4 separate regions of the Homo sapiens genome follow, and regions 2, 3 and 4 are each linked to region 1. Evidence: fine-mapped expression QTL. A gene starts in region 1. Each other region holds a variant in brackets. All regions are shown on one strand. Distances are from middle to middle.

The links. PIP is the estimated chance that this variant, and not a neighbour inherited with it, causes the effect.
Region 2: its variant is fine-mapped to the expression of BTBD6 in lung (TOPMed, PIP above 0.99).
Region 3: its variant is fine-mapped to the expression of BTBD6 in tibial nerve (GTEx, PIP 0.97).
Region 4: its variant is fine-mapped to the expression of BTBD6 in visceral fat (GTEx, PIP 0.95).

What each region holds. Positions count from the first base shown.
Region 1 is chr14:105,245,291-105,252,636 of GRCh38, forward strand. It overlaps BTBD6 (BTB domain containing 6), which reads left to right and starts at 3,243. Exons shown (of 4, transcript NM_001387567.1): 1 at 3,243-3,795; 2 at 3,867-3,957; 3 at 4,070-4,188; 4 at 4,350-5,803. The coding sequence starts at 3,422. The coding sequence ends at 5,382. It overlaps BRF1 (BRF1 general transcription factor IIIB subunit), which reads right to left. Exons shown (of 18, transcript NM_001519.4): 5 at 7,217-7,289. RefSeq lists enhancers at 2,869-3,659, 4,451-5,240 and silencers at 3,035-3,594, 3,795-3,844.
Region 2 is chr14:105,292,979-105,300,324 of GRCh38, forward strand. All of the region lies in intron 1 of BRF1 (BRF1 general transcription factor IIIB subunit), which reads right to left. Among named protein-coding and RNA genes, the nearest start is that of BRF1, 4.3 kb to the right of the region's middle. RefSeq lists enhancers at 95-244, 395-514, 1,155-1,284, 6,765-6,844. The variant G/A (reference allele first, on the strand shown) is at 3,660.
Region 3 is chr14:104,396,309-104,403,654 of GRCh38, forward strand. It overlaps the pseudogene RNU6-684P. Among named protein-coding and RNA genes, the nearest start is that of LINC02691, 180 kb to the left of the region's middle. RefSeq lists enhancers at 6,765-7,331, 7,332-7,346. The variant T/C (reference allele first, on the strand shown) is at 3,316.
Region 4 is chr14:105,274,968-105,282,313 of GRCh38, forward strand. All of the region lies in intron 2 of BRF1 (BRF1 general transcription factor IIIB subunit), which reads right to left. Among named protein-coding and RNA genes, the nearest start is that of BRF1, 22 kb to the right of the region's middle. RefSeq lists an enhancer at 1-136. The variant CTA/C (reference allele first, on the strand shown) is at 4,561.

The DNA.
Region 1 (7,346 bases):
GTGGAGGTTGCAGTGAGCTGAGATCGTGCCACTGCACTCCAGCCTGAGTGACAGAGCAAGACTCCATCTCAAAAAAAATAAATAAATAAATAAAGGAAGCAATGAAATTAATGAACTAAAATAACAGAAAACTAAAAATTAACAAAATTAATTATTTAAAGTAGGCAAAGGGACTAATAAGAAAAAGAAGCAAATAAATTACCACTGTCAAGAAAAGAATTAAAAAGTCCAACAGCCAGTATGGTGCTGACATAAAGACAGACCTACAGACCAACAGAACAGAACAGGACAGGACAGGACAGGACAGGACAGCACAGGGCCAGAAATGACAATGACAGACAGATGACCTTCAACAAGGGTGACAAGAACTTCTTGCACAATGGGGAAAGGATGGTCTCTTCAATATGCAGCGCTGGGAAAACTGGATATCCACTTGCAAATAAAGATAGACCCTTACCTTACATCATACACAAAAACTAACTCAAAACCGATGCAAGACCCAAACACAGACTTGAAACTGTAAAACCCTTAGAAGAAAACAAAGGGAAAGACTTCACGACATTGGTCTTGGCAATGATTTCTTGAACATGACACCAACAGCAAGGGCAACGAAAGTAAAAATAGACAAATGGGATGACCTCAAACTAAAAAGTTTCTGCACAGCAAAGGAATCTATTAACAGAAATGATATCCTATAGAATGGAAGAGACTATGTGCAAACCATCTATCTCATAAGGGGTTAACAGCCTGAATATACAAAAAACTCCAACTCAGGAACAAAATCGATTAAAAATGGGCAAACTGCACTTTTGTAATCCCAGCTCTTTGGGAGGCTGAGGCACAAGAATCGCTTGAACCTGGAAGGCGGATGTTGCAGTGCACCCTCACCACCGCACTCCAGCCTGGGCAACGGAGTAAGACTCTGTCTCAAAAAAAAAAGGCAAAGCCCTTGAACAGACGTTTCTCCAAACACGCCATGCAAATAGCCAACAAGCACATGAGTAGATGGTCAACATCATTATTTATCAGGGACATGCAAATCAAAACCACATGACACTACCTCATGTCCATTAGGATGACCATTATCACAAACAAAAAAGAATAGGCTGGGCGCGGTGGCTCACACCTGTAATCCCAGCACTTTGGGAGGCCTAGGCAGGTAGATCACTTGAGGCCAGGAGTTTAAGACCAGCCTGGTCAACGGAGTCTCGCTCTGTCATCCAGGCTGGAGTGCAGTAGCATGATCTCAGCTCACTGCAACCTCCGCCTCCCTGGTTCGAGCCATTCTCCTTCCTTGGCCTCCCGAATAGCTGGGATTACAGGTGCCCGTTAATTTTTGTATTTTTAGTAGAGATGGGGTTTCACCATGTTGGCCAGGCTGGTCTCAAACTCCTGACCTCAAGTGATCCGCCCACCTTGGCCTCCCAAAGTGCTGGGATTACAGGCGTGAGCCACCGCGCCCAACCTACACTGTAACATATTTAAAAATCAAAGTGCAAAGGGTGGTTTCTTTCTAAGGATGAAAATTATTATTCACATGCTCCACACCACCATGCAGATCAAGACGCTGACTACCTCTGGCGGCTCAGCAATTCTATCCTGGCACCCCCGGAGACAGCTGTCGCCCAGGTCTTGTGTGCTGCTGTAAGTTATTCCTTCTCACTGCATTCCCCAAATGGACCCACCACAACCTGCTGATCCTTTCTGTTGCTGATGGACATGTAGGCTGTCTCCACTCTGGCCATTTGTATTTCTCCTGGAAACTGCTTATGCCCGTTACCTTTTTCTATGGAAACAGACGGCTGGGACAGAAACCACGGCCACAGCAGCCAGCGTGTCTTTGCCAGTGGGGTCCCACACTATGAAATCGCAGCTGTGGCCTCGGTGGGTGTGTCCTTGGCGGGTGCATCCACACACTTTCTCTCGGAACTTTCCGGACTCTCATGCATATGCTACAGCTTTCCAAACGGCTTGGCCGTGCGGAGTTACGCACCCACCTGCAGCAGGTGATCTCCAGCTGCTCTGCATTCCACCAACACTACGTGACAAGTCTCAAGTTCAGCCGCCTGGGGGCTCGGGCACCCCATTCCTGGGAGAAATGATGATTTGTGCACTCTGGGCCATTGCATGGTGTCTGTTCACGTCCTTTGCCCGTTTTTTAAAAAACTGGGTTGTCAGCCTTTTCCTTCCTGACTTGTAGTTGCTCCTCCATCCTGGAGAGTCCTTTGTTGAAAATACCGCAAATATCTTCTGAAGAGGACTCTCCCAGGGAACATTCACTACAACTGTAACGACCACAGAGACACAGAGCTCCTGTTCACTGTTTAGCCCAGGACTGCGGTGACAGGTGCACCCATGACCCGAGATGCTGGCTGCGTCCTGTGGGGTTTCCTGCATATGGAAGTTTTAAAAGTCTAAAGCCTGGCGGTCCAGGAGGTTGCGTGTGTGTCCTCGGGGAGGAACCCTCCTGACAGCCAGGCCTCTGGAGCTTCGTCTGCACGCGAGCTTGGCATGCACCAGCTGTGCGGCCCAGGCCAGGTGACACGGCCTCTGAAGTCTGGTCTCCTCATCAGCAAAGCCAGTGCCCCATGCCACGCACCTCCCAGGATTAGCCCCAGGCCGGGAGGCTAGAGGCCCCACAAGGAGCGAGCCTGCGACTGCGATCCACAGGCAGAGCCACAGAGGCAGGGCGCGCCCTGGGGCCCAAGCTCCAGGGCTGCAGGCCCAGGGCCAGATCCTGACTTGCCCACCCGCCGGCTGTGTGACCTTCAGCGCGCGACTAACCTCTCTGTGCCTATTTCCTCGAGGAAAATGCCGGGAAATAGCAGCGCCTGCCCCTGTAAAGCCCTCAGAGCAGAGTGGACCGCGCTCTCTGCAAGCGCTGGCTGCTGGCGTCCGTAGCAAGCTAAATCGCGAAGCATCTGAACGAACGAGGAAGCCCAACGACCATCCCACAGGCCGCGGCCAGAGGCAGACTCCGGAATGCAAATGGCCAAACAAGCAGGTCCACCTGCGTTCCTAACCAAAAGATCGCTAACTGAAGAACGGGCGCAAGCACCTGCGCATGGCACTGCGGGTCTGGGGGCGGCCGCCTGCCAGCGCCGGGAGCCGCCTTCCACGGCTACCTCTGCACAGCGCGCGGCTCGCGCCGGTTGCTGGGCAGAAGCTCGAGCAGCTTCGAGGATGTCGGGCCTGGGGGCGGGGCCGCGAGGCAGCGACGTCGCGCGGGGCGCGGCCCTGACGCAGCGTGACGCACCGGCGCCGCGGCGGGTACGGGCTCGGGCGGGCGGGCGGGCGGGACGGCGCCCCCCGCGGCCGGGCCTGGCCGGGCTGCGCTAGGCTGGGCTCGGGCAGGGTCGCAGGGGCGGGGGTGGCAGGGGAGCGGGTGGCAGCCCCGCGGGTCACAGCGCCGCCGCCGCCCATGCTGCTGCCCCTAGCCTGCCTGCACGGCCGCGTCGCTCAGTGCCTGACCTCCTTGCTTTTGCTTGCAGAGCCGCTCCCGAGGCCCCGGCGCGGCGCGAGGGCGCGGGGCGCGGCGTCCACAGGCGCCGAGGCTGCCCCCGCCGCCCCGCCCGCGAAGATGGCGGCGGAACTCTACGCTCCCGCCAGCGCCGCGGCCGCGGACCTAGCCAACAGCAACGCCGGCGCCGCCGTGGGCAGGAAGGCCGGGCCGCGCAGCCCGCCCAGCGCCCCCGCGCCAGCGCCGCCGCCGCCCGCGCCCGCGCCGCCCACACTCGGCAACAACCACCAGGAGAGCCCCGGCTGGCGGTGCTGCCGCCCCACGCTGCGCGAGAGGTGAGCCCGTGCCCCGCGGCCCCCGCGCCCGCGCGCGCCCACGCCCCCAGCCCGTGCCTCTACCTTTGCAGGAACGCGCTCATGTTCAACAACGAGCTCATGGCCGACGTGCACTTCGTCGTGGGGCCCCCGGGGGCGACCAGGACGGTGCCCGCCCACAAGGTGGGTAGCGGCGGCCCCTCTCGGAACGCGTGCCCCGTCCGCCCCGTCCGCCGTGTGGCTGACACGCAGCCTGCGGGAGAGCCAGGCTCACGGCGGCGCTTTCTCCTCCCAGTACGTCTTGGCTGTCGGCAGCTCCGTCTTCTATGCCATGTTCTACGGAGACCTGGCGGAAGTCAAATCTGAAATTCACATTCCAGACGTGGAGCCCGCAGCCTTTCTGATCCTCTTAAAGTAAGTCCACTCTACTGGGGAGGGACGGGTGGGTCCGTTTTAGGCGGCCTCCGGAGGCTTCTGAAGGGAAGCACACAGGAGCTGATGGACTCCTCTCCCAGGCCCAGCCCCGCGATGGGTGCTTGGGAGCCAGCCCCTGACGCGGGCCCTGCCTCGCCTAGGTACATGTACAGTGATGAGATCGATCTGGAAGCCGACACGGTGCTGGCCACTCTGTACGCTGCTAAGAAGTACATCGTCCCAGCATTGGCAAAAGCCTGTGTCAACTTTCTGGAGACAAGTTTGGAAGCCAAGAACGCCTGCGTCCTGCTGTCCCAGAGCCGGCTGTTTGAGGAGCCCGAGCTGACGCAGCGCTGCTGGGAGGTCATTGACGCACAGGCCGAGATGGCCCTACGGTCCGAAGGCTTCTGTGAGATAGACCGGCAGACGCTGGAGATCATTGTCACTCGGGAGGCCCTCAACACCAAAGAGGCGGTGGTCTTCGAGGCCGTCCTGAACTGGGCCGAGGCGGAGTGCAAGAGGCAGGGGCTGCCAATCACCCCACGAAACAAGAGGCATGTTCTGGGGCGAGCCCTCTATCTGGTCCGAATTCCAACCATGACCCTAGAGGAGTTTGCCAACGGCGCTGCCCAGTCAGACATCCTGACTCTGGAGGAGACCCACAGCATCTTCCTGTGGTACACGGCCACCAACAAGCCCCGCCTGGACTTTCCCCTGACCAAGAGGAAGGGCCTCGCCCCGCAGAGGTGCCACCGATTCCAGTCTTCTGCCTACCGCAGCAACCAGTGGCGGTACCGCGGGCGCTGCGACAGCATCCAGTTTGCAGTGGACAGAAGGGTATTTATTGCAGGGCTGGGCCTGTATGGCTCCAGCTCTGGGAAGGCTGAGTACAGCGTGAAGATTGAGCTCAAGCGGCTCGGGGTGGTTCTGGCTCAGAACTTGACCAAGTTCATGTCAGACGGATCCAGTAACACCTTCCCGGTCTGGTTTGAACACCCGGTCCAGGTTGAACAAGACACCTTCTACACGGCCAGTGCCGTCCTGGACGGCAGCGAACTCAGCTACTTTGGGCAGGAGGGGATGACGGAAGTGCAGTGTGGAAAGGTGGCCTTCCAGTTCCAGTGCTCCTCGGACAGCACCAACGGGACTGGGGTCCAGGGTGGGCAGATCCCTGAGCTCATTTTCTATGCCTGAGGTGCCCGGGGAGGCTGCAGCAGGTCAGCGAGTGAGTGGAGGGGAAGTCAAGATGCTAACTGCTTCTTGACACCATGAAAGGCTGCTCTTAACTTTGTCTCTCTTTGACATGTAGTCAGCTGAAGCTTGACTGTGTAGAGACATTTTCCACACAGCCAGAACCCAGGGATTGGAGTCTTAGGCATCTCTGGTACAGTGGGGTGCACGTCTCAGGTGGAGGAAGATTTACGGCTCAAGACAGGCCCCAGATCCCCTCCCAGTGGCACCCATGCCACCTGCTTTGAGGGGTTGGATCTTCCTGCTACCCTCTTGGATTCTAAGTGGTTCCAAGCTTAACTTGAGACCTTCCCTTCAAATCTAAAATTGGCAAAAAGTCACTTAAAATAGTGGACTTCTGTAATAAAGGTTGCCTAAAATAACACCCACGTGTCAGTAAATGACTACAGCAGTTGTACAGTGGGGTATTCTCTTTCTCATGCAACAGAACAGCTCCCTCCCATCCCGAGGAGAAAACCTGTCATGCTGAACATGCTATGTGGTTAGGAGCAAACTGCGCCCCAGTGAAGCCCATCTGTCCCCTGGGTTGCTGGCTGGCTTCTGGGCCACCCTAGGAAACACCAGGTGCCTGGTTGTCTCTATGTCCTAATGCATCACTAGCACCTCAGAGTCCTACCCTATGAACAGACTGTCGGGGGAGCATTCTGCTGGGCCCAGCGTTCTGGACCCTGGGGACTGTCACTAGCTGTGACACTGCTGCGGGACAGCCTGTTGCAGGAGTGGACTATAGGGTGAAACAGGCTCTCCCACCCCTTGTCTCTCTCCTCCCACTCTGCATACCCTGTAGGCAGTTGTTTTCTGGAAAACCTGTATGACCCCCGAAAAGAGGGATGGCCCCTCTTGGCACCTGGGAGAGGGCATGGGCCGAGTGTATAGCCTCAGCCGGTGCCCCTCTGCTGCTGCAGCCCGTGTTGCTCAGTCCTGTTGGTGACCCAGCCCCACCTGGTGCTTCTCTACCCAAAGGACATACGCTCCTAGATGCAAACAGGCAAAGTAAGAAAGGGGCCTCTAAGCGGGCCATGGAAACCAGTCATCTGCTTGGTAAAGAAAGGGTAGGTCAGAACCATCGGGCAGTGAGTGCTGTTTTGATCCTTTCCTTCTAGACTTTTCCGCTAGGTTAGATTCTGCATGCATGAACACTGCTGCTGCCTCGAGGGAGAGACAGGACTTACCCTACACCTAACACACATCAAGAAAGGCATACAGGAGTTCCACAAACTCGCACACAACACAGAACAAAAGTGGCAGAAAAACCACAAAAGAGGGCTGTGGCTGGAAAGCACAACCAGGAGCTGCCCCACTGTCCCCATCTGTCCAGAGGCACCTGGAGCCAGGTGTGTCCCTTAAACCTTGTCCACACAAGATGCTCCCAGCACGCAGCACTTGTTTCCCTGTCTACACCTTCCTGCCACCTGACAGGCACTGACAACAGGCCTTCTGGTTTTGCAGCAGAAAGCAAGCCCCAGGCCAGGTGCGGTCTCATGCCTGTAATCCCAGTGCTTTGGGAGGCGAAGGCACGAGGATCACTTGAGGCCAGGAGTTTGAGGCTGCAGTGAGCTACGATTGTGCCACTGCACTCCAGCCTGGACAACAGCGAGACTGTGTCTTAGAAAATAAGGCCCCACATTACTGAGCTCCTAGCAGCTTTAAGAAACATTTCTTACCTTGAGGGGTCCCATGCTTGGACAGGATTTCCCTCCACTGTTCAAAGGACATTTGGCACGCTGGTCCCTACAGCAGCCTGCCGGACACCCCAGCATCTCACCCAGATGCCTACCTATGGCCGGCGCATTGATGCAGAGCTCTCTTGCCAAGAGAAGAAACGTCTTTCCAAGCACGTACACATTCACCTGAGATGGAGAGATCACAACCAGAAACAGCATTGGTATTTAAGGAAATGTTTGCTT
Region 2 (7,346 bases), 48 kb after region 1:
ACGCTGCAGGCTAACCAGCAGCTTCCTCCCTCACCCAGATGGCAACGGGACAGAATTCACCCGTTTCCTAAGAGCAGGCACCTTCAGCCACAACTTAGGGTTCTGGGGGTCATGGAGCAGAGGCAGAAGCCTGGAGCCTTCCACCCTCAGGACTAGAGCCCCGCCAGGAGGCCAGGCGCATGCTCAGAACCCCAGGCCGCAGGGAGAGGCTGGCCGGTCACATCCTTCTCTGAGGCAGAGGGAGCTTCCCAGCAGGCGAGGGCAACTCCACCACCCATGTCCCCCTCCAGGGCCAGCGCCAGGTGACATGCAGCCATGTCACAAATTAGGTCCGGCTGCATCGTGACCCCAAACGGAAAACAGCAGCACTCACGGACACCCCAGCTTCGAAGTTCTAACTGTGAAGCCACTGAAAGTTGTGATTACGGGAAACGCTCCCCACCCCCACAAGTTCTGGTGACACTGAGGTGTGCTGCTCCTTGCACAGGACGAGGAGGGACCCCTGCAAGCAGGAGCCCAGGATGTCTGGTGTGTGGGCGCCATCACCATCACCTGCTGGCAGAGGGAAGCCTCAGGGCACACACAGTGCAGGACACTGATGTGGGCTCACAGGGAAGCCCCGCCTTGCCTCAGTGGAGCAGACGGCCTCCTCAGGGCACTGCCAACGGCCCCCAACTCCACCGTCTGCCTGGCCCCTCCAGCCACGCTGAGCCTCAGTCCTCACCCACCCTTCTCTCTGCACAGTCTCTGCTCGGGTGCCCCGGGACGCTGGAGCACCAGTGTGGTTTCCCCCGTGGGGCCTGGCTTCCAAGGTCAGGACCCTCTGGGGACTCTCCTGAGGCCTCTGGTCACCTGCCCTGATGCCTTAGTTAAATATTCCAGAGTAAACTGCGAAGCTGTATCAGGCTTAGTTCTCAATTAATAGGCAAAACACCTAGGAAAGACAGTGGCCTTGGGACTAGAAAACGACAGCTCAGAGAGAAAGCTCAGCTTTCAAGATGAAGCTGGAGGAAGGGGCGGCTGGGGCCTACTTGTGTGCCAGGGAAACTGAGAAGCCACCAAGGTTTCCAGCCCCCTGTGATCACCACTGTGACGAGGGAGGAAGGATGCCAAGTGGGCACCTAGAGAGCCTGCCTGGGAGACAGAGGGGCTGCCCAGAGCAACAGATCCCCTCTCTCCTCCCCACTCTCGGCCCAGGCACCACCTGCGCCGGTCCCCAGGGGCTAAGAACCCGCCGCCTCGCAGCACTTCCCCCAGGACCACCACAGTTGGTTGCTGGGCCTGCGCCTCCCTCCAGAGAGTGTGCCTGGGCTCAGAGGCGTCTTGGGGCCACCTGACAGCGCTGGCTCTGAGCTTGTTCTGACAGCACCCGGGTGACAGACTTCCAGCTCTGCACTGCTCCACACCACCATCCTCCCCCGGCAGGGCACAGTGAGGGCAGTGCGCTGTCACCAGGCCCGGATGCACTTAACACTGTGCCTGCCCGGGAAACCCTGCGTCTGCTGCCATGACAACTTGCTTTCATTACTGTTGTTATCATCCCAACAGACATCCAAGTCTTGGCAACTGTGACACAGCTGCAAACTCTGTGCCCAGCAGTCCTAGGAAGATACCCAGGGAGTATGAGCATGGAAGACGATGGGGAGGGAAGAGCAGGAGAGAAAACTCAATGAAGCCCAAGCCAGTTCTTAGAAAAGATCAAAAACACGGATCAACTTCTAGCAAGAGAGACAAAGGGAAAAAAAGACACAAAACACCAACATCTGAAAGGAAAAAGGAGGCCACTGTGGACCCCGCAGATATCAAAAGGATAAGGGAATGCTTCGAACAACTCTCTGGGCAAATTCAACAACTAGGTCAAGTGGACCAATTCCTCAACACAAGCGGCTAATTCACCCCAGGTGAAACACAGCATCTTAAATATAACTAGAACCTCAGTGATGAAAGAAGCCGAAACCACAGTGCAGAATCTTCTGAGAAAGAAAGCTTTGGGACCAGATGGCTACGCTGGTGAATTCTACCAAACATTTCAGAAAGAAAGAACACCAACTCTACATAATGTCTTCCAGAAAATAGAAGAGGAAACGTTTCCCAACCCATTCCATAAGGAGCAGAACCCTGATACCCAAGACAAGGACGTTACAGGAAAAACTACAGGCCAATATCCCACGCAAGCATCAGCAGGAACCCTCAACAGAACATCCGGCGCTGAGCAAAGCAGCTCATGCCGCTAATCCCAGCACTCTGGGAGGCCAAGGTGGGAGGATGCCTTGAGGTCAGAAGTTCGAGACCAGCCTGAGCAGCAAAGCAAGACCACATCTCTACAAAAAAAAAAAAAAAAAAAAAAAAATTGGCGTTGGCTCACACCTGTCATCCTAGAACTTTGAGAGGCCAAGACGGGAGAATTACTTGAGCCCAGGAGTTCCAGACGAGCCTGGTCAACATGGCAAAACCCCATCTCTACAAGAAAAATACAAAAATTAGCTGGGTATAGTAGGGCGCACCTGTAGTACCAGCAACTCAGGAGGCTGAGCTGGGAGGGTCACTGGAGCCCAGGGGGTTACGACTGCAGTAAGCCATGACCACTGCACTCCAGCCAGGGTGACTGAGCAAGACCCTAGACCCTGTCTCCCCAACCAAAAAAAAATTTTTTTAATTAGCTGGGCATGGTAGTGCATGCCCGTAGTCCTAGCTACTCTGGAGTCTCAGGTGGAAGGATCTCTTGAACCCAGAAGTTCCAGGCTGCAGTGACCTGTGATCACACCACTGCACTCCAGTCTGGGCAACAGTGAGACTTTGTCCCAGAAAAAAAAAAAAAAGCTGGGTGCGGTGGCTCACGCCTGTAATCCCAGAACTTTCAGGGGCCAAGGCAGGTGTATCACTTGAGATTAGAAGTTCAAGACCAGCCTCACCAACATGGTGAAACCCCATCTCTACTACAAATACAAAAACCAGCCGGGTATGGTAGTGGGCTCCTATGTAATCCCAGCTACTCAGGAGGCTGAGGCAGGAGAATCGCTTGAACCCAGGAGGGGGAGGTTGCAGTGAGCCCAGATTGCGCCACTGCACTCCAGCCTGGGCAACAGAGCGACACTCTATCTCAAAAAAAAAAAAAAAAAAAAAACTCAAGGAGTGTATTAAAAACTCTTAGGGGCCAGGTGTGGTGGCTCACACCTGTAATCCCAGCACTTTGGGAGGCCAAGGCGGGTGGATCGCCTGGCCAACATGGCAAAACCCCATCTCTACTAAAAATACAAAAACTGCGGCCGGGTGCAACAGCTCACACCTGTAATCCCAGGACTTTGGGAGGCCGAGGTGGGCGGATCACGAGGTCAGGAGATTGAGACCATCCATGTAACCCCGCCTCTGCTAAAAATACAAAAAATTAGCCGGGCGTGGTGCTGGGCGCCTGTAATCCCAGCTACTTGGGAGGCTCAGGCAGGAGAATGGCATGAACCTGGGAGGCAGAGCTTACAGTGAGCCGAGATTGTGCCACTGGACTCCAGCCTGGGTGACAGAGCAAGACGCCGTCTCAAAAAAAAAAACAAAAAACTTAGCTGGGTGCGGTGGCGGGTGCCTGTGATCCCAGCTACTTGGGAGGCTGAGGCAGGAGAATCTCTTGAACCTGGGAGGCGGAGATTGCAGTGAGCCAAGATGGT[G/A]CCACTGCACTCCAGCCTGGGCAACAAGAGCAAGACACCAGCTCAAAAAAAAAGAAAAAAAAAAAAAAACCTCTTAGAACAAGTAAGTTTAGCAAAGCCATAGGAAACAGGACAACACACAGAAATCAACCATATTTATATAAACAAGCAATGAAGAGTTGAAAACTAAATTAAAAAAATTCCACTTATAATAACTCCTAATAGAGCTTAGGTACACATCTAAAAAATGTCCAGAGGGCCAGGCACGGCAGCTCATGCCTATAATTCCAGCACTTTGAGAGGCTGAAGTGGGGGGGGATCACTTGAGGTCAGGAGTTCGAGACCAGCCTGGCCAACATGGTGAAACCCTGTCTCTACTAAAAATACAAAAATTAGCCAGGCGTGGTGGTGGGCTCCTGTAATCACAGCTACTTGGGAGGCTGAGGCACGAGAATCGCTTGAACCCAAGAGGCAGAGGTTGCAGTGAGCCGAGGTTGCACCACTGCACTCCAGCCTGAGTGACAGAGCGAGACTCCATCTCAAAAAAAAAGTCCAGAAGCTGTATGCTGAAAACTACCCAACACTGACAGACTATATCAAAGAAAATCTAAATGAATGCAAACATACACTGTGTTCCATGGACTACAAGATTCAACATAGAAAAAATGTCAGCTGGGCACAGTGGCTCCCACCTGTAATCCCAGCACTTTGGGAGGCCGAAGAGGGCGGATCACGAGGTCAGGAGTTCGAGACCAGCCTGGCCAATGTGGTGAAACCCCGTCTCTACTAAAAAATATACAAAAATTAGCTGGGTGTGGTGGCGTGTGCCTGCAGTCCCAGCTACTCAGAAGGCTGAGGCAGCAGAATCACTTGAACTCGGGAGGCGGAGGGTGCAGTGAGCTCAGATCGCGCCACTGCACTTCAGCGTGGGTGACAGGGTGAGACTCTGTCTCAAAAAAAGAGAAAGAAAGAAAAAATGTCAGCTCTCCCTAAATATATCAAGAGGTTTAATGCAATTCCAATGAAAACCCCACCAGGACTTTTGTACAGGTTGAACATCCCAAATCCAAAAATCTGAGATTATAAATGCTCCAAAACGGCCCGGTGCAGTGGCTCACGCTGGTAAACCCAGCACTTTGGGAGGCTGAGGCAGGTGGATCACGAGGTCAGGAGATCGAAACCATCCCGGCTAACACGGTGAAACCCCGTCTCTACTAAAAATACAAAAAATTAGCCGGGCGTGGTGGCGGTCGCCTGTAGTCCCAGCTACTTGGGAGGCTGAGGCAGGAGAATGGCGTGAAGCCAGGAGGCGGAGCTTGCAGTGAGCCGAGATAGTGCCACTGCACTCCAGCATGGGCAGCAAAGCGAGACTCCGTCTCAAGAAAAAAATAAAATAAAAAATAAATGCTCCAAAACATGAAACTTTTTGAGTATCAACACGATGCTCAAAGGAAATGCTCACTGGAGCATCTCAGATTTCAGATTTTTCGATTAGGGATGCTTAACCAGTAATTATAATGCAGATATTCCAAAATCAGAAAACTCTGGTATCCAAAACACTTCTGGTCCCAAGCATTTCAGGTAAGAATATGTGACCTGCAGAGATGCACAAACTTACTCTAAAATTAAAAAGAGAAAGGGAAATTAATAGCCACAACAACTTTGAAAAGGAAGAACAAAGGTTGAGGGACTCACAATATCTGATTTCAGGACAATATAACAGGTATAGTAAAAAAGCGTGTGATGCTGACAAAGGAAAACGGCACCTGATCAACAGGGCAGGACACAAGGCCCAGAGACAGACCTGCACGGACGGGGCCCAGTGAGCACAGCCGAGGGAGCAAAGGCCTTCAGTCTTTCAACAAACGGTGTTGAAACAAGGGGACCTCCAGATAAACAATGAGCCTCAGCCTACAAAGCACACCTTATACAAAACATAGATGGACCACAGATTTAGGCCAGGTGCGGTGGCTCGCGCCTGTAATCCCAGCACTTTGGGAGGCTGAGGCAGGCGGATCACTTGAGGTCAGGTGTTCAAGACCAGCCTGACGAACAGGGTGAAACCCTGTCTCTACTAAAAATACAAAAATTAGCCAAGTGAGGTGGCGCACGCCTGTAATCCCAGGTACTTGGGAGGCTGAGGCACGAGAATCACTTGAACCTGGGAGGCAGAGGTTGCAGTGAAACGAGATTGTGCCACTGCACTCCAGCCTGGGCCACAGAGCAAGATTCTGTCTCAAAAAAAAAAAAAAAGTTAAAACTTCTGCTTTGAGGCCGTGCGCAGTGGCTCACGCCTGTAATCCCAGCACTTTGGGAGGCCGAGGTAGGCGGATCACGAGGTCAGGAGATCGAGACCATCCTGGCTATCACAGTGAAACCCCGTCTCCACTAAAAAATACAAAAAAAATTAGCCGGGCATGGTAGTGGGCTCCTGTAGTCCCAGCTACTCGGGAGGCTGAGGCAGGAGAATGGCGTGAGCCTGGGAGGCAGAGCTTGCAGTGAGCCGAGATCGAGCCACTGCACTCCAGCCTGGGCAACAGAGCAAGACTCCATCTCAAAAGAAAAAAAACTTCTGCTTTGAAAATCACATATACAACAAAGGGCTTGTAACTACAATCCACAAAGAACTCCCAAAACTCAACAATAAGAAAACAACCCAAATAAAAAATGAGAGTCAGGGTGTGGTGGCTCACGCTGTAATCCCAGCAATTCGGGAGGCCAAGGCTGGAGTATCACTTGAGCCCAGGAGTTTGAGACCAGCCTGGGCAACATAGAGACCTTGTCTCTACTAAAAATAAAATAAAATAAATGATCACAGCATGGTGGCATGCACCTGTAGTCTCAGCTACTCAGGAGGTTGAGGCAGGAGAATTGCCTGAGCCTAGGAGTTCAAGGCTGCAGAGAGCCATGACTGGGCCATTGCACACCAGCCTGGGCCACAGAGTGAGATCCTGTCTCGAGATAAATAAAAAAATAAGACTTGAGCACACATTTCAACAAAGAGGATTCGGGCATGGCAAATAAGCACCCTAATAAGGTTGAACATCACTAGCCAGTAGAGAAATACAGAATACCACTATGATGAGATGCCACACACCTGTTAGAACAACCGAAATAAAAACATCGACAACACCAAGTGCTGGTGAAGATGTGGGGCAACTGGTGAGAATGCATAATGGCACAGCCACATCACAAAACAGTTCATGACAGTTTCCCATAGAGTTACACATACAGCTAAGTTCCCCAGAGAAATGAAAACGTATGTTCACACAGAGAGCTGCAAATGAATCCTTTTAGCAGCTCTATTCACAACCACCTGAAACTGGCCACAGTCCAGCTCCTTCCACAGGCTGGGGTCCATCCCCAGCCCGCAATACTGCCCATCACTGAAACGTCCCCTCCGAGGCCTGCAGCAGCCTGAGTGGCCCTAGGGCATCCGCCCGGTAACCACCAAGGCCAAGGGCAGCAGCAATCGGATTCTAAGTACCAGACATTGCTGAAAACAAAACTGCAGGCACAGAGAGTGACAGTGAGGGGCAGCTTGAGGGGCCTTCTGGGCTCCCCAGGCTCTCTTCAACCCTCCCTGTGCTGGCTGCCCTGGCCCACGCGTGTGTCGAGGAAGTCCACGCACGCCACGGGGGTCCACAGGCGCGCGAAGAAGGTCTACATTCTCGCCAAGGGGATCCACACTCGCGCCCAGACGGCGCA
Region 3 (7,346 bases), 850 kb before region 1:
TGCCAGTCCAGAGATCCCAAAAAAACCTGTGTCCCGGCTGCTGTCCTTGGCCCTGCTCTGACCCCTGCTCTCCCCGCTGCTTTTCAGAATTGCTGCTCCGTGAATTTCTGAATTGCAGTACTCGCTGTGCACCTGTCTCTTCCTTCGGGAGCCATTGTCAGGTGGGATTGCGTAAATGTCCTCCATGGCGTGAGGCCCTGACTCACCTGAACAACATTCCCCAGTGAGCACGGAGCAGCAGCCCGCCCGGCTCAGCAGTGCCTTGCCCTGGCCCTTTCTCTCCTCGCTGGTTCATCTGCATTAAAGAAACAGAAAGCTTCCTTCGCTGGCCCGCTCATTGCCTGTCTTCTCTCCCTGCCTCAGCTGCGGTCAGGCTCCAGGTGAGCTGCACCTGGCCGTCTCAATTACACTGCTTCTCTGGCATCGGATAGGAACTCTATGGCCAACTTACCCACAAGGTGGTCTGCAATATCTTTGAATAAATTAATGATTGAATGAATGTCTTAGTCCATCCAGGCCACTACAACAAAACAACACAGATGGGGCAGCTTAACAGTGGACATTCATTCCTCACATTTCTGGAGGCTGGGAGTCCAAGGTGAAGGTGGCAGCAGGGTTGGCTCCAGAGAGGGCTGCTTCCTGGTCCCCGGACAGCCTCCTTCTTGCTGTGTCCTCTCATAGCAGAGAGAGGATGTTCTGTCACGGGCCCTCATGACCTCCTCTAAGCCTCATCAGCTCCCAGGGGCCTCACTTGCAAATACCATCGCATTGGGGTCAGAGCTTCCACATAGGAAACATTTGGTCTGTAGCAACGAGTGAATGAATCATTACAGATTTCTCTATAAGACCACCAGGTCTTAATGTATTCAAAGATATTGCAGACCACCTCTTGGGTAAGTTGGCCATAGAGTTCTTATCCAATGCCAGAGAGGCCGCGTAAATGAGACGGCCAGGTGCAGCTCACCTGGAGTCTGACCGCAGCTGAGGCCGGGAGAGAAGACCGACGACGTCTGAGTCGTCAATGTTGTGAAAGATCTCCAGAGTGATGAAATTAAGGGTATTTATTTCTTTAGTTGTTGCTTTTGTTGTAGCAAACAAAATGAAACAAACACACATGCACACAAAACGACCAAGCAAAAAGTGTCCGCTACTTGTTAAAGTGAACCTCTAGTAAAGTTGTCTCTCTTTTTGTCACCGAGGATGAGAAACAGAGATGGGAATTCTATCCTCATGGAAAACAGGAGGCACCCACAACTCTGAGCCCCTGAGAGTGTGAAGGCCTTGCCGAGTGACCTCGCTGCTCCAGGGCGAGGCGGAGGCCAGGCTGCGGGGCTGCACAGCCAGCCAGGGAAGCTCCCCGCCCCAGGACTGCCCTCCCACACACTGCAGACAGTTGTTTCGGGAAGAACTCACTTTATATGCACAAATAAACAATGACAGAAAGGAATGAAAATAGTGTCCACTGAAAACATTACAAGAAAAAGGAAGAAAATAATAGAAAAGGTAAAAAGCAAAGACACAAAAAATCCTCGCATTGGGGAAGATGATGGAAACCTTCTTAACAATCAGAAACTTAACGATCTAAATGAAAATGTCTTTCACGTAAAACAAAAGCCAAGACAGACTTCAATAAGAAACAAAAAGATGATAGGAGATTTCAAAAATAGGCAGGCAGAGCTCAAGAAAAGAAGCAGAATTTTAAAAATCACAAAATGAAGGCCACACTAGAATCAAAGAAAAAGAGAATAGATTCTCCTAAAACCATTGCCAGGGATGTGGAGTCAAGCTTGGAAAAAGTGAAAAAAATTCACCAGAAAAGAATAAAGAGTTGCGATGGTTTAGAGGAAAGGATAGAAAAGGAAAACACAAAATGCCGACACAACACACACATAATTGGTGGCCTTGCAGGAGAAAATCAAATATAAAAGAAAAATAATTCAAATAATTCAAGAAAATGTGGTGAAACTAAAAAAGATGAAATCTATGGATTAAGAGGGTATATCATGTTTCTACAAAAATTGGTGCACTTGATCAGCACTGAGACTTGGGGGTCAAACACGAAGAATTTGTTTGGCACCGAGGCAAAAATATGAAGGCCCTGACATGAGAAGAGAAGTCCAAGCTGGCTTCAGATTTTCTACGGCAACACCTCATCTTAGAGAAGAGGGAAATAATGCCTGCAAAATCTCCAGGAAAAGAAAGTATGAACCAAGAATTTTATATCAGAGTAAAATTTTAGAACAGAATAAAGCTGTTACTCATGCTGAATCATAAAAAAGCGCTTCTGAAAATATTCACAAATGGAGGAACTCTTGTCTACTGAAGTTCCTTTTAAATAAATAAATAGAGAATGAATTTTAGTCCACCAAAAGGCAAATGAACAGGCTGTGAAGGACTAGGTCAAAACAACTGAGAGACTTAGGCCGTGGAGCGTTAAGTAGTGTGGAGTGTGTCAGTGGAGACAGGCGGCAGAGCTTTGGTGGCCTGTGACAAATAAATCCGGACAGCTCCTCCTCTCCCTGTGGGTGCAGCCACTCACCCAGGAAGTCCACTTCCCTCCACCTGACTCTAGGCTGGCCTCATGGCTTCTTTGGCCAATCCAATGAGGCAGAAGGGGTGTCTTGTGAGTTCTGGAACCTGGGTCTTAGGGCGTGGTAGCTTCAATTTTCACTGTCATGGCAAATCCTGATGCCGGGGCGCCTTCTGATATGGTTTGAATAAAATCTCACCTGAAATGTGATCCCCAATGTTGGAGGTGGGGCCTGGTGGGAGATGTTTGGGTTATGGGGGTGGATCCCTCATGAATGGCTTGGGGCTGTCCCCATGGTAGTGAGTGAGTTCTCACTCTTAATTCACACAAGAGCTGGTGTTAAAAAGAGCATGGCACCTCCTCCTATCTCTCTTGCTTCCTCTCCCATCATGTGACATTCTTGTTCCCCTTCCACCTTCCATCATGAGTGGAAGCAACCTGAGGCCCTCACCGGAAGCCGAGCAGATGCCAGTGACATAATTCTGTACAGCTTGCAGAACTGTGAGCCAAATAAACCTGTTGTCTTTATAAATTATCCAAGCTCAGATATTCCCTTATAGCAACACAAAACAGAGTAAGACATCTTCCCTGCGCTGCTCCCGCCACCCCTTCTCCCCGGAGAGCAGCTTCTCGGAAAATCACCTGCACCTGAATCTTTGGCTCAGCATCTGCTCTGAAAAACTTGATCTAACACGGCATCTAAGATCCAAAGGAAGTTAGCTCAGCCTGACGCCAGCTTTCTCTCTAAAAGCACCCAATCCAAGCACATGGCCTGTGGCAGGATG[T/C]GGAAGCAATGCCCCTGGGTCTCAGGACACTCAGGGTAGGCAGGTGGAGAGCTCTTAGTATGGCAGGAGTGATGGGGGTGGGGGTGGGGATGCTGGAGGTGGTGCTGAGAACACAGGTGGCACAAAGACCCAGTCCACTCCTCCTGTGACCTTTGCCCTCCAGCTCCTGCCAATCAACTTCTCAGTCAGTGTCTAGGCCCAGCCCTCTATTGCCTCCGTGCTGCCATGGCCTCCCTGTCCATCTCCCAGGCAACAGAGGAGTCGGTCTGAGGCCTCCAGCCTCACAGCCAGTGTAGTTGCATGTTAGGTACCACTTCCATCCTCGGCTGTCAAAGAACAATGCTCCTTATCTGAAGAATGTGGTCTGGAGATAATTAGTTCTAACGGGACACAGCCCTGTGGCTGCTGTGGATGGGGCTTTGTTGTGGCTCAACAATGCCACCATCAGCCCAGATGTCGTGCACAGGCTTGGGCAAAAGGCAGGTGACTGCAGACTCACAGGGGCTCAAGAAGCACACCACATGGGAGAGCTGTGGAGATTCACTAAAGGATGGAACTAAACAGATCGACAGAGACAGACTAAAAAACAGCCTCTTCAGCCTTTGTCTGCAGTGTGCCTAATGCCTCCAGCCACCAGCAAATCAATAACAATAATAACAAAACCATCACCAGTGACGACAGGGGGCCCTCATCAGGCACTCCACCCATGAGGCACTCACAGTAACTCGATAAAGATGATGCAAATTACATATATCCCTATTCATAGGTGAAGGAAAGGAGGTGGGCAGTTTACCTGACTTGCTCCCAGTCCTGGAATTCTGAGCAGTGAAGCCGAGATTCAAACCCAGGATGCCTGGCTGCAAAGCCCACACATGTGCACAGCTGGCACCATACCCACCCGGTGCTGCCCACACATGTGCACCTGGCCCCATACTCACCCTGTGCTGCCCACGCAAGTCCCCACTGATATGGTTTGGATTTGTGTCCCCACCCAAATCTCATGTCAAATTATAATCCCCAGTGTTGGAGGAGGGGCTTGGTGGGAGGTGACTGAATCATGGGAGCAGATTTCCCTTTTGCTGTTCTCACGATAGTGAGTTCTCATGAGATCTGGTTATTTTAAAGTATGTTGCACCTCCTGCTTCCCAGTCTTCCTCCTTCTCTGGCCATGTAAAATGTGCCTCCTTCCTCTTTGCCTTCTGCCATGATTGTAAGTTTCCTGAGGCACCCCAGCCATGCTTCCTGTACAGCCTGCAGAACTGGGAATCAATTAAACTCCTGTTCTTTATAAATTACCCAGACTCAGGTAGTTCTTTTTTAAAAATTTTTTTCCTTTTAATTTTTCTTTGTCATCCTTGTACAGGGACCATGCTAATGTTCTCTGTACCATTCCAATTTTAGTATATGTGCTGCCAAAGTGAGCACTCAGGTAGTTCTTTATAGCAGTGCCAAAATTGGCACCAGGAAGTACCAGGAAGAGAAGAGAAGAGACCTGAAAATGTGGAAGCAGCTTTGGAACTGGGTAACGAGAAGAGGGTGGAAGAGTTTGGAGATCTCAGAAGAAGACAGGAAGAGGAGGGAAAGTTTGGAACGTCCCAGAGATTTGTTGAATGGTTGTGACCAAAATGCTGATAGTGATATGGACGGTTAAGTCCAGGCTGAGGAGGTCTCATATGGAAATTAGGAACTTATTGGGAACTGGAGTAAAGGTCATTCTTGCTATGCTTTAGCAAAGAGACTGGTGGTGTTGTAACCCTGCTCTAGGGATCAGTGGAACTTTGAACATGACAGTGATGATTTAGGGTATCTGGCAGAAGAAATTTCTAAGCAGCAAAGCATTCAAGATGTGGCCTGGCTACTTCTAACAACATATGGTCATATGCATGAGCGAGGAGATTATCTAAAACTGGAACTTATATTTATTAATAAAAGGGAAGCAGAGCATAAAAGTTTAGAAAAATTGTAGCCTGACCATGTAGTAGAAAAGAAAATCCCCATCAGGTGCAGTAGCTTATGCCTGTAATTCCAGCACTTTGGGAGGCTGCAGCGGGTGGATCACTTGAGGCCAGGAGTTTGAAACCAGCCTGGCCAACATGGTGGAACCCCATCTGTACTAAAAATACAAAAATTAGCTGGGCGTGATGGTGCACATCTGTAATCCCAGCTACTTGGGTGGCTAAGGCACGAGAATCACTTAAACCCAGGAGGCAGAGATTGCAGTGAGCCAAGATCACACCACTGCATTCCAGCCTGGGTGACAGCATGAGACTCCTCAAAAGATTTAAAAACAGAAAAACCCATTTTCTGGGGAGGACTTCAAGCCAGCTGCAGAAATTTGCATGAGTTGCTGAATGTCAACAGCCAAGACAATGGGGAAAATGTCTAAAAGGCACTTCAGAGACTTTGGCGGCAGCCCTCCGATCTCAGGCGTGGAGGCCTAGGAGGGAAGAATGGTTTCATGGGCTGGGCCTAGGGCTCCACTGCCCTGTACAACTTTGGGACACTGCTCCCTGTATCCTAGCCACTCCAGCTTTAGCCATGGCCAAAGGGCCCCAGATATGTCTTAGATGATGGCTCCAGAAGGTGCAAGCCATTCAGTGTTGGTGGCTTCCATGTGGTGTTGAGCCTGTGGGTACACAGAGGGCAAGGGCTGAGGTTTGGGAGCCTCTGGTTAGATTTCAGAAGATGTATGGAAATGCCTGGATGTCCAAGCAGAAGTCTGCAACAGGCCTGGAACTCTCACGGAGAACCTCTACTAGGGCAGTGTGGAGGGGAAATGTGGGGTTGGAGGCCCCACACAGAGTCCCCACTGGGGCACTGCCTAGTGGAGCTGTGAGAAGAGGGCCACTGTCCTCCAGACCCCAGAATGGTAGATGTACTGACAGCTTGCACCACGCACCTGGAAAAGCCACAGGCACTCAGCGGCACCCCATAAAAGCAGCCAAGGGGGCTGTACCCTGCAGAGCCACAGGGCTGGAGATGCCCAAGGCCTTGAGAGCCCACACCTTGCGTCAGTGTGGTCTGGATGTGGGACATGGAGTCAAAAGACATTATTTTGGAGCTTTAAGATTTAATGACTGCCCTGCTGCGTTTTGGACTTGCATGGGGCCTGTGACCCCTTTGTTTTGGTGGATTTCTCCCTTTTGGAGTGGGTGTATTTACCCAATGCCATTACCCTCATTGTATCTTGGAAGTAACTAACTTGCTTTTGATTTTCCAGGCTCATAGGTGGTAGGGCCTTGCCTTGTCTCAGATGAGACTTTGGATTGTGGAGTTTTGAGTTAATACTGAAATGAGTTAAGACCTGTGGGACTGTTAAGAAGGGATGATTGTGTTTTCCCATGTGAGAAAGACGTGAGATTTGGGAGGGGCTGGGGTAGAATAATATGGTTTGGATTGTGTCCCTGCCCAAAACTCATGTCAAATTGTAATCCCCAGTGTTGCAGGAGGGCCTGGTGGGAGGTGATTGGATCGTGGGGGCGGATTTCCCCTTGCCGTTCTCATGCTAGTGAGTGAGTTCTCAGGAGAGCTGGTTGTTTAAAAGTGTGCAGCATCTCCCCCCACCCTTCCTCCTTCTCTGGCCATGGAAGACATGCCTCCTTCCCCTTTGCCTTTCATCAGGATTGTAAGTTTCCTGAGACCTACCCAGCCATGCTTCCTGGACAGCCTGCGGAACTGTGAGTCGATTAAACTTTTCTTTATAAATTACCCAGTCTTGGGGAGTTCTTTATAGCAATGTGAGAACAGGCTAATACACCCACCTTGTAGCATGCCTATCTAGTGCTGCCCACACACATGCCCACTTTACTGTATGCCTGACTGGTGCTGCCCAGACATGTGCCCACCCTGCTGCATTCCCGCCCTGGTACCACTCAGACATGTGCCCACCTTGCTGCATGCCCACCTGGTACCAGGCCCATGCCGACCCTGCTGCATGCCCACCTGGTACAACTCAGACATGTGCCCACCCTGCTGCATGCCTGCCTGGTGCTTCCCAGACACGGGCCACGTTGCAGCATGTCTGCCCAGTG
Region 4 (7,346 bases), 30 kb after region 1:
CCACTGCATCCTCTGGCACCCAAACCCACAGTCCTCCTGCAAAGACTACCTGAGGCGGCCTCCATCCCCATATAAAGTCAAAAACTGACCTCCCAGATTTATTTGATAAGGGCACATGAGCTGGAGAAAGTGAGGGCTGATGTTTTGCTCACGCCAAACTTCACTAATGATGACCAGCAGCCAGAGGTGGGCAGCTGCTGAGCCTGCATCCCAAGGAAGCCGGTGGCCAGGGTACACAGTCTGGCAGGTCCAGGTCAAGCCTCACACTGCCAGGCCCCTGGCAGTCAGCAGCATCACATGGAGCCCCCAGCCCGGCTGTGGCCCTGCCACCTTGAGCACCTAAGGCCACCTGCCTAGAGCTCATACAGCTCTGAGGCCTGCAGTCCAGCTGAGCTGACGTGGAAGGCTGGTCACTGTCCCCAGAGCTGAGGCCTGGGCCAAGCCAAGACCCCAAAAGAATGGACAGAAAGGGCATCGTGCCAGCTGCCACCTGCACATGTGCAGCACCAGCCAGACACACCAGCACAGACCGTCCCCGCGGCCCAGCAAGGCCCAGAGGGAAACAGAGTCAGCTGACAGGGGACCCGCTGAAGCTACGGCTCCTTACCTACCAGCTCTCTGCTGTATGTTTGAAAATTCTGTAATAAAAGGTAAGAGAGAGGTACTCTCTGAGGCCACACACTTGAGGCTGGGACTCGATCCCAAGCCCCGACCCCACAGGCACCAGCTCGTGTTCCCAGCATGCAGGGCTGCTATGGTCAGAATGTCTGACTCCTAAAATTCCTATGTTGAAATCCTATCCCCTACGGGGATGGTATTAAGATGCAGGGCCTTTGCGGGAGACTAGGTCAGGAGGCAGAGCACTAATGATGAGCTCAGTGCCCTTAAAAACCGGACCCCAGAGAACTAGCCCAGCTCTTCTACCACGTGAGGCCACAGTGAGAAGGAGCTGAGAGGCGGCCCTCACTAGAGAGCTGGGGAGGAGGCCACAGTGAGAAGGAGCTGAGAGGGGGCCCTCACTAGAGAGCTGGGGAGGAGGCCACAGTGAGAAGGAGCTGAGAGGCGGCCCTCACTAGAGAGCTGGGGAGGAGGCCACAGTGAGAAGGAGCTGAGAGGGGGCCCTCACTAGAGAGCTGGGGAGGAGGCCACAGTGAGAAGGAGCCGAGAGGCGGCCCTCACTAGAGAGCTGGGGAGGAGGCCACAGTGAGAAGGAGCCGAGAGGCGGCCCTCACTAGAGAGCTGGGGAGGAGGCCACAGTGAGAAGGAGCCGAGAGGGGGCCCTCACTAGAGAGCTGGGGAGGAGGCCACAGTGAGAAGGAGCCGAGAGGCGGCCCTCACTAGAGAGCTGGGGAGGAGGCCACAGTGAGAAGGAGCCGAGAGGCGGCCCTCACTAGAGAGCTGGGGAGGAGGCCACAGTGAGAAGGAGCTGAGAGGGGGCCCTCACTAGAGAGCTGGGGAGGAGGCCACAGTGAGAAGGAGCCGAGAGGCGGCCCTCACTAGAGAGCTGGGGAGGAGGCCACAGTGAGAAGGAGCCGAGAGGGGGCCCTCACTAGAGAGCTGGGGAGGAGGCCACAGTGAGAAGGAGCCGAGAGGCGGCCCTCACTAGAGAGCTGGGGAGGAGGCCACAGTGAGAAGGAGCCGAGAGGGGGCCCTCACTAGAGAGCTGGGGAGGAGGCCACAGTGAGAAGGAGCTGAGAGGCGGCCCTCACTAGAGAGCTGGGGAGGAGGCCACAGTGAGAAGGAGCCGAGAGGCGGCCCTCACTAGAGAGCTGGGGAGGAGGCCACAGTGAGAAGGAGCTGAGAGGCGGCCCTCACTAGAGAGCTGGGGAGGAGGCCACAGTGAGAAGGAGCCGAGAGGCGGCCCTCACTAGAGAGCTGGGGAGGAGGCCACAGTGAGAAGGAGCCGAGAGGCGGCCCTCACTAGAGAGCTGGGGAGGAGGCCACAGTGAGAAGGAGCCGAGAGGGGGCCCTCACTAGGGAGCTGGGGAGGAGGCCACAGTGAGAAGGAGCTGAGAGGGGGCCCTCACTAGAGAGCTGGGGAGGAGGCCACAGTGAGAAGGAGCCGAGAGGCGGCCCTCACTAGAGAGCTGGGGAGGAGGCCACAGTGAGAAGGAGCCGAGAGGCGGCCCTCACTAGAGAGCTGGGGAGGAGGCCACAGTGAGAAGGAGCCGAGAGGGGGCCCTCACTAGGGAGCTGGGGAGGAGGCCACAGTGAGAAGGAGCTGAGAGGGGGCCCTCACTAGAGAGCTGGGGAGGAGGCCACAGTGAGAAGGAGCTGAGAGGGGGCCCTCACTAGAGAGCTGGGGAGGAGGCCACAGTGAGAAGGAGCCGAGAGGCGGCCCTCACTAGAGAGCTGGGGAGGAGGCCACAGTGAGAAGGAGCTGAGAGGGGGCCCTCACTAGAGAGCTGGGGAGGAGGCCACAGTGAGAAGGAGCCGAGAGGCGGCCCTCACTAGAGAGCTGGGGAGGAGGCCACAGTGAGAAGGAGCTGAGAGGGGGCCCTCACTAGAGAGCTGGGGAGGAGGCCACAGTGAGAAGGAGCTGAGAGGCGGCCCTCACTAGAGAGCTGGGGAGGAGGCCACAGTGAGAAGGAGCTGAGAGGCGGCCCTCACTAGAGAGCTGGGGAGGAGGCAACTGTCTCCCCCATCTCCAGCTCAAACTTTCCAGCTCCAAAAGTGTGAGAAACACATTCCTGCTGTTTTGCCTTTCTGGTCTATGGTGTTCTGTTACAGCAGCCCAAAAGGACTAAAATGGGGGCTTATGATGACTGCAGTAAGTTATTTTTTACCATCTTCTTTCTCTTTTTTGAGATGGAGTCTCGCTCTGTCACCCAGGCTAGAGTGCAGTGGTGCGATCTCAGCTCACTGCAACCTCTGCTTCCCGGGTTCAAGTGATTCTCCTGCCTCAGCCTCTTGAGTAGCTGGGACTACAGGCACATGCCACTGCACCCAGCTAATTTTTTGTATTTTTAGTACAGACAGGGTTTCACACTGTTGGCCAGGATGGTCTCGAACTCCTGACCTTGTGATCCACCCATCTCCGCCTCCCAAAGTGCTGGGATACAAGCATGAGCCACTGTGCCTGGCCAAATATGTTATTAATAAACAGATATTCACATAGAAACCAACTACTAATTAGCTAGCCATAGCCTGCGAGTCTCCTTAGACTTCCTTCCAACAAATGAATTCTAAAAGTAAACTCAGGCTGTGTGCCGTGGCTCATGCCTGTAGTAATCCCAGCACTTCGGGAGGCTGAAGCAGGTAGATCACTTGAGCCCAGAAGTTCAAGACCAGCCTGGGCAACATAGTGAGATCCAACTGCTAAAATAATCAGCCAGGTGTGGTGGTGCAAGCCTGTAGGCCCAGCCAAGGTAGGAGGACTGCTTGAGCTTGGAAGGTTGAGGCTGCAGTGAGCCATGATCCTGCCACTGCAGTCCAGCCTGGGCAGCAAGAGAGCGAGACCCTGTCTCCAAAAAAAAAAAAAAAGATTTGAGGCATATCACCACTTACATGTAAAGTATAAAGCAATAAAGCTTCCAGAGGAAAACACAAGAGTATCTTCAGACCTTGGAGTAGATAAGAATTTCTTGAACAAGTCACAAACAGCCCTAACCATAAAAACTGATATACTGGGACTTCATTATAATTAAGAAATTTCTGGCAGGGTGCAGTGGCTCACACCTGTCATCCCAGCACTTTGGGAGGCTGAGGTGGGAGGATCACTGGAGCCCAGGAGTTGAAGACCAACCTGGCCAACATGGTGAGACCCCCATCTCTATTTAAAAAAAAAAAAGAATTGGCCGTGCGCAGTGGCTCATGCCGGTAATCCCAACACTTTGGGAGGCCGAGGCGGGCAGATCACGAGGTCAAGAGATCGAGACCATCCTGACCAACATGGTGAAACCCCGTCTCTACTAAAAAGTACAAATATTAGCCGGGCATGGTGGTGCACACCTGTAATCCCAGCTACTCGGGAGGCTAAGGCAGGAGAATCGCTTGCACCCATGAGGCAGAGGCTGCAGTGAGCCGAGATCGCGCCACTGCACTCCAGTCTGGCAAAAGAGTGAGACTCCATGTCAAAGAAAAAAATTAAAAATGAGTGGATGTGGTGGCATGTACACGTGATCCCAACTACTCGGGAGGCTGAAGTGAGAGGGCGGCTTTAGTCTGGGAGGTTGAGGCTGCAAGGAGCATCGACTGCACCACTGCACTCCAGCCCGGACCACAGAGTGAGTGAGACCCAGTCTCAAAAAAAAAAATTCAGAAGTTTCTGTTCGTCAAAAGACAACATTAAGAGAGTGAGACAAGCTACAGACGTGGGAGGAGGATTCGAAACATGTATATCCAACAAAGGACTCGAATCCAGAATATATAAAGAACTCTACAAATCTGTAAGAAAAAGACAACTCAGTTTTTAAAAAGCACAAAAGACGCCAATAGGCACTTCACACAGAAAGGACGTCCCAACAGCCAAGAAGCATGAGCAAAGGTTGTGGCCATAATTACTCACCAGGGAAAGCGAATTAATGCCGCAGCGAGTGTGCTACACACCTACCAGAAAGA[CTA/C]CAACTGGAAAGGCTGATGATGCCACATGTGAACAAGGCTGCGGAGCCACTGGGACTCTCCTACACTGCTTCCTGGTGGGAACATGAACTGGTACAAGCACTACAGAAAACCCTGTGGCCCTATCTAATGATGAGCACACCCAGACCTCAGGACCCAGACACCCATTCGCAGGTAAACTCCCAAGCGGAGGGGGCACCTGTGTCCACCGAAGGACCAGGTGCAAGAACACGCACAGCAGCTTCCTGTGCACAGCCAAGAATGGAAACACCCTAGACGTCCATCAACAGGAAAAGGAGATAAACTGTGGTCTATTCATCCCATGAAATACTACATTGCAATAAAAGAATAAACTACTTACACGCTCCAAAACAGCACGTTCTAGAACGGCTCCAGCCCAGACACTGGCAAGCCAGATGCGGACGACTAGAGCCACAGGAGCTCTCCTTCCTTGCTGCTGGGAGCACAAAATGGCTCAGGTGCTTTGGAAAAGGGTTTGGCAGTTTCTTACAAAACTCAGCATACTCTCACCACACCACCCAGCAATCACTCAGAAAAACCTGCACGTGACGTTTACAGCAGCTTCACTCATAATCGCCCAAGCCCAGATTCCCTTCAGCAAGCAGGTGAAAGGATAAATCAACTGTGGCGCACCTAGGCGGTGGAATATTACTCACCACTAAAGAGAAAGAGGCCACAGGCTGTGCAGAGACCTGGAGGACAGTTAAATGCCCATGGCTGAGTGACAGGCTGCACAGAGAAAGGATGCACAGTGTGCAACTCCAGCTCTACGACCACATGACCAAGCGCCGGTGAAAAGATCAATGGTTGCTGGAGGCTGGGGAAGGAGGGATGAATGGGTGGAGCTCAGGGGATCTTTAGGACTCTGAAAGCACTCTGTATGAAACTGTAACAGTGGTTACCCGTCACTACGCATTCATCTAAACCCATAGAACACGCACCGCCCAGCGTGAGCCTGGGTGTGTGGTGGAAGCTGCGTGATCCTGAGCCCAGGTGTGCAGATACAGCCTGAATGATCCTGAGCCCGCGTGCGCAGGTGGAGGCTGCATGATCCTGAGCCCGCGTGTGCAGGTGGAGGCTGTGTGATCCTGAGCCTGCGTGTGCAGGTGGAGGCTGCATGATCCTGAGCCCGGCTGTGCGGTGAAGGCTGCGTGATCCTGAGTCCGGGTGTGCGGATACAGCCCGCGTGACCCTGAGCCCGGGTGTGCGGATATAGCCCACGTGACCCTGAGCCTGGGTGTGCAGGTGGAGGCTGCATAATCTTGAGCCCAGGTGTGCAGGTGGAGGCTGCATGACCCTGAGCCCGGGTGTGTGGATACAGCCCACGTGACCCTGAGCCCAGGTGTGCGGATACAGCCTGCGTGACCCTGAGCCCAGGTGTGTGGACAGAGCCTGCGTGACCCTGAGCCCAGGTGTGTGGACAGAGCCTGCGTGACCCTGAGCCCGGGTGTGTGGATACAGCCTGCGTGACCCTGAGCCCAGGTGTGTGGATACAGCCTGCGTGACCCTGAGCCCAGGTGTGCGGATACAGCCTGCGTGACCCTGAGCCCAGGTGTGTGGATACAGCCTGCGTGACCCTGAGCCCGGGTGTGTGGATACAGGCTGCGTGATCCTGAGCCCAGGTGTGCAGGTGGAGGCCGTGTGATCCTGAGCCCGGGTGTGTGGATACAGCCTGCGTGATCCTGAGCCCGGGTGTGTGGATACAGCCTGCGTGACCCTGAGCCCGGGTGTGTGGATACAGCCTGTGTGATCCTGAGCCCGGGTGTGTGGATACAGCCTGCGTGATCCTGAGCCCAGGTGTGCGGATACAGCCTGTGTGACCCTGAGCCCGGGTGTGTGGATACAGGCTGCGTGATCCTGAGCCCAGGTGTGAGGTGGAGGCCGTGTGATCCTGAGCCCGGGTGTGTGGATACAGCCTGCGTGACCCTGAGCCCAGGTGTGCGGATACAGCCTGCGTGACCCTGAGCCCGGGTGTGTGGACAGAGCCTGCGTGATCCTGAGCCCGGGTGTGTGGACAGAGCCTGCGTGATCCTGATGAGTCGATGTGGGGCGGCTGACTGCAGCTCGTGCACCACAGTGGAGGGGGGCACTGACGGGGTCAGGGGAAGCTGTGTGGTGGGAGGTGCTCAGAGTCTACAGGAACTCTCTGCCGATCCATTTTGCTGTGAACCTAAAATGCTCTAAAAATTACAAGTCTTTTTTTTTTTTTTAAATTCCTTTCTATATGATTCCCACTGTATGAAGCAGAAAACCAAGTGAAGCCAGTGGGCAGCAGGTGCTTTCTGAGCTGCTGCAGGCCTGACTCATGTGGATTTGTCAGGTGGTTCATGGAAGGTCAGCACATTTCATGCACTTTACTATGCGTGCTATACTAGGAAAAACAGACCAAGAGAACAGAAAAAGAATTTCCCTGAGAAACGCGTCCCAAACGAAAGGCTCATCAGGTCAATGAAGAGAGCCCCACCTAGCGGCATTTCAGAACCGTCGCTTCAGAACATCAAAGAAATCATCCCAAAAGGCCTGAGATTTTAAAAACAGAGATCAAAACACACTGGCATTCAACGTCTCTTGCTGGTGGACCCGGAGCAGATGCTCCCCACATTCCATGGGGTGCCTGTCTCAACCCCTTGGCAACCATCCCAGGGGGAAGGGGCAGGAGTTTCTCTCTCCCAGACCCTTTCTCTAAATACAGTCTCAGCGTGTCCCCAGCAAACCAAAGGAGGGGCCTGTGACCTCGCAGGGTGCACGGAGGCAAGCAGAGGAGA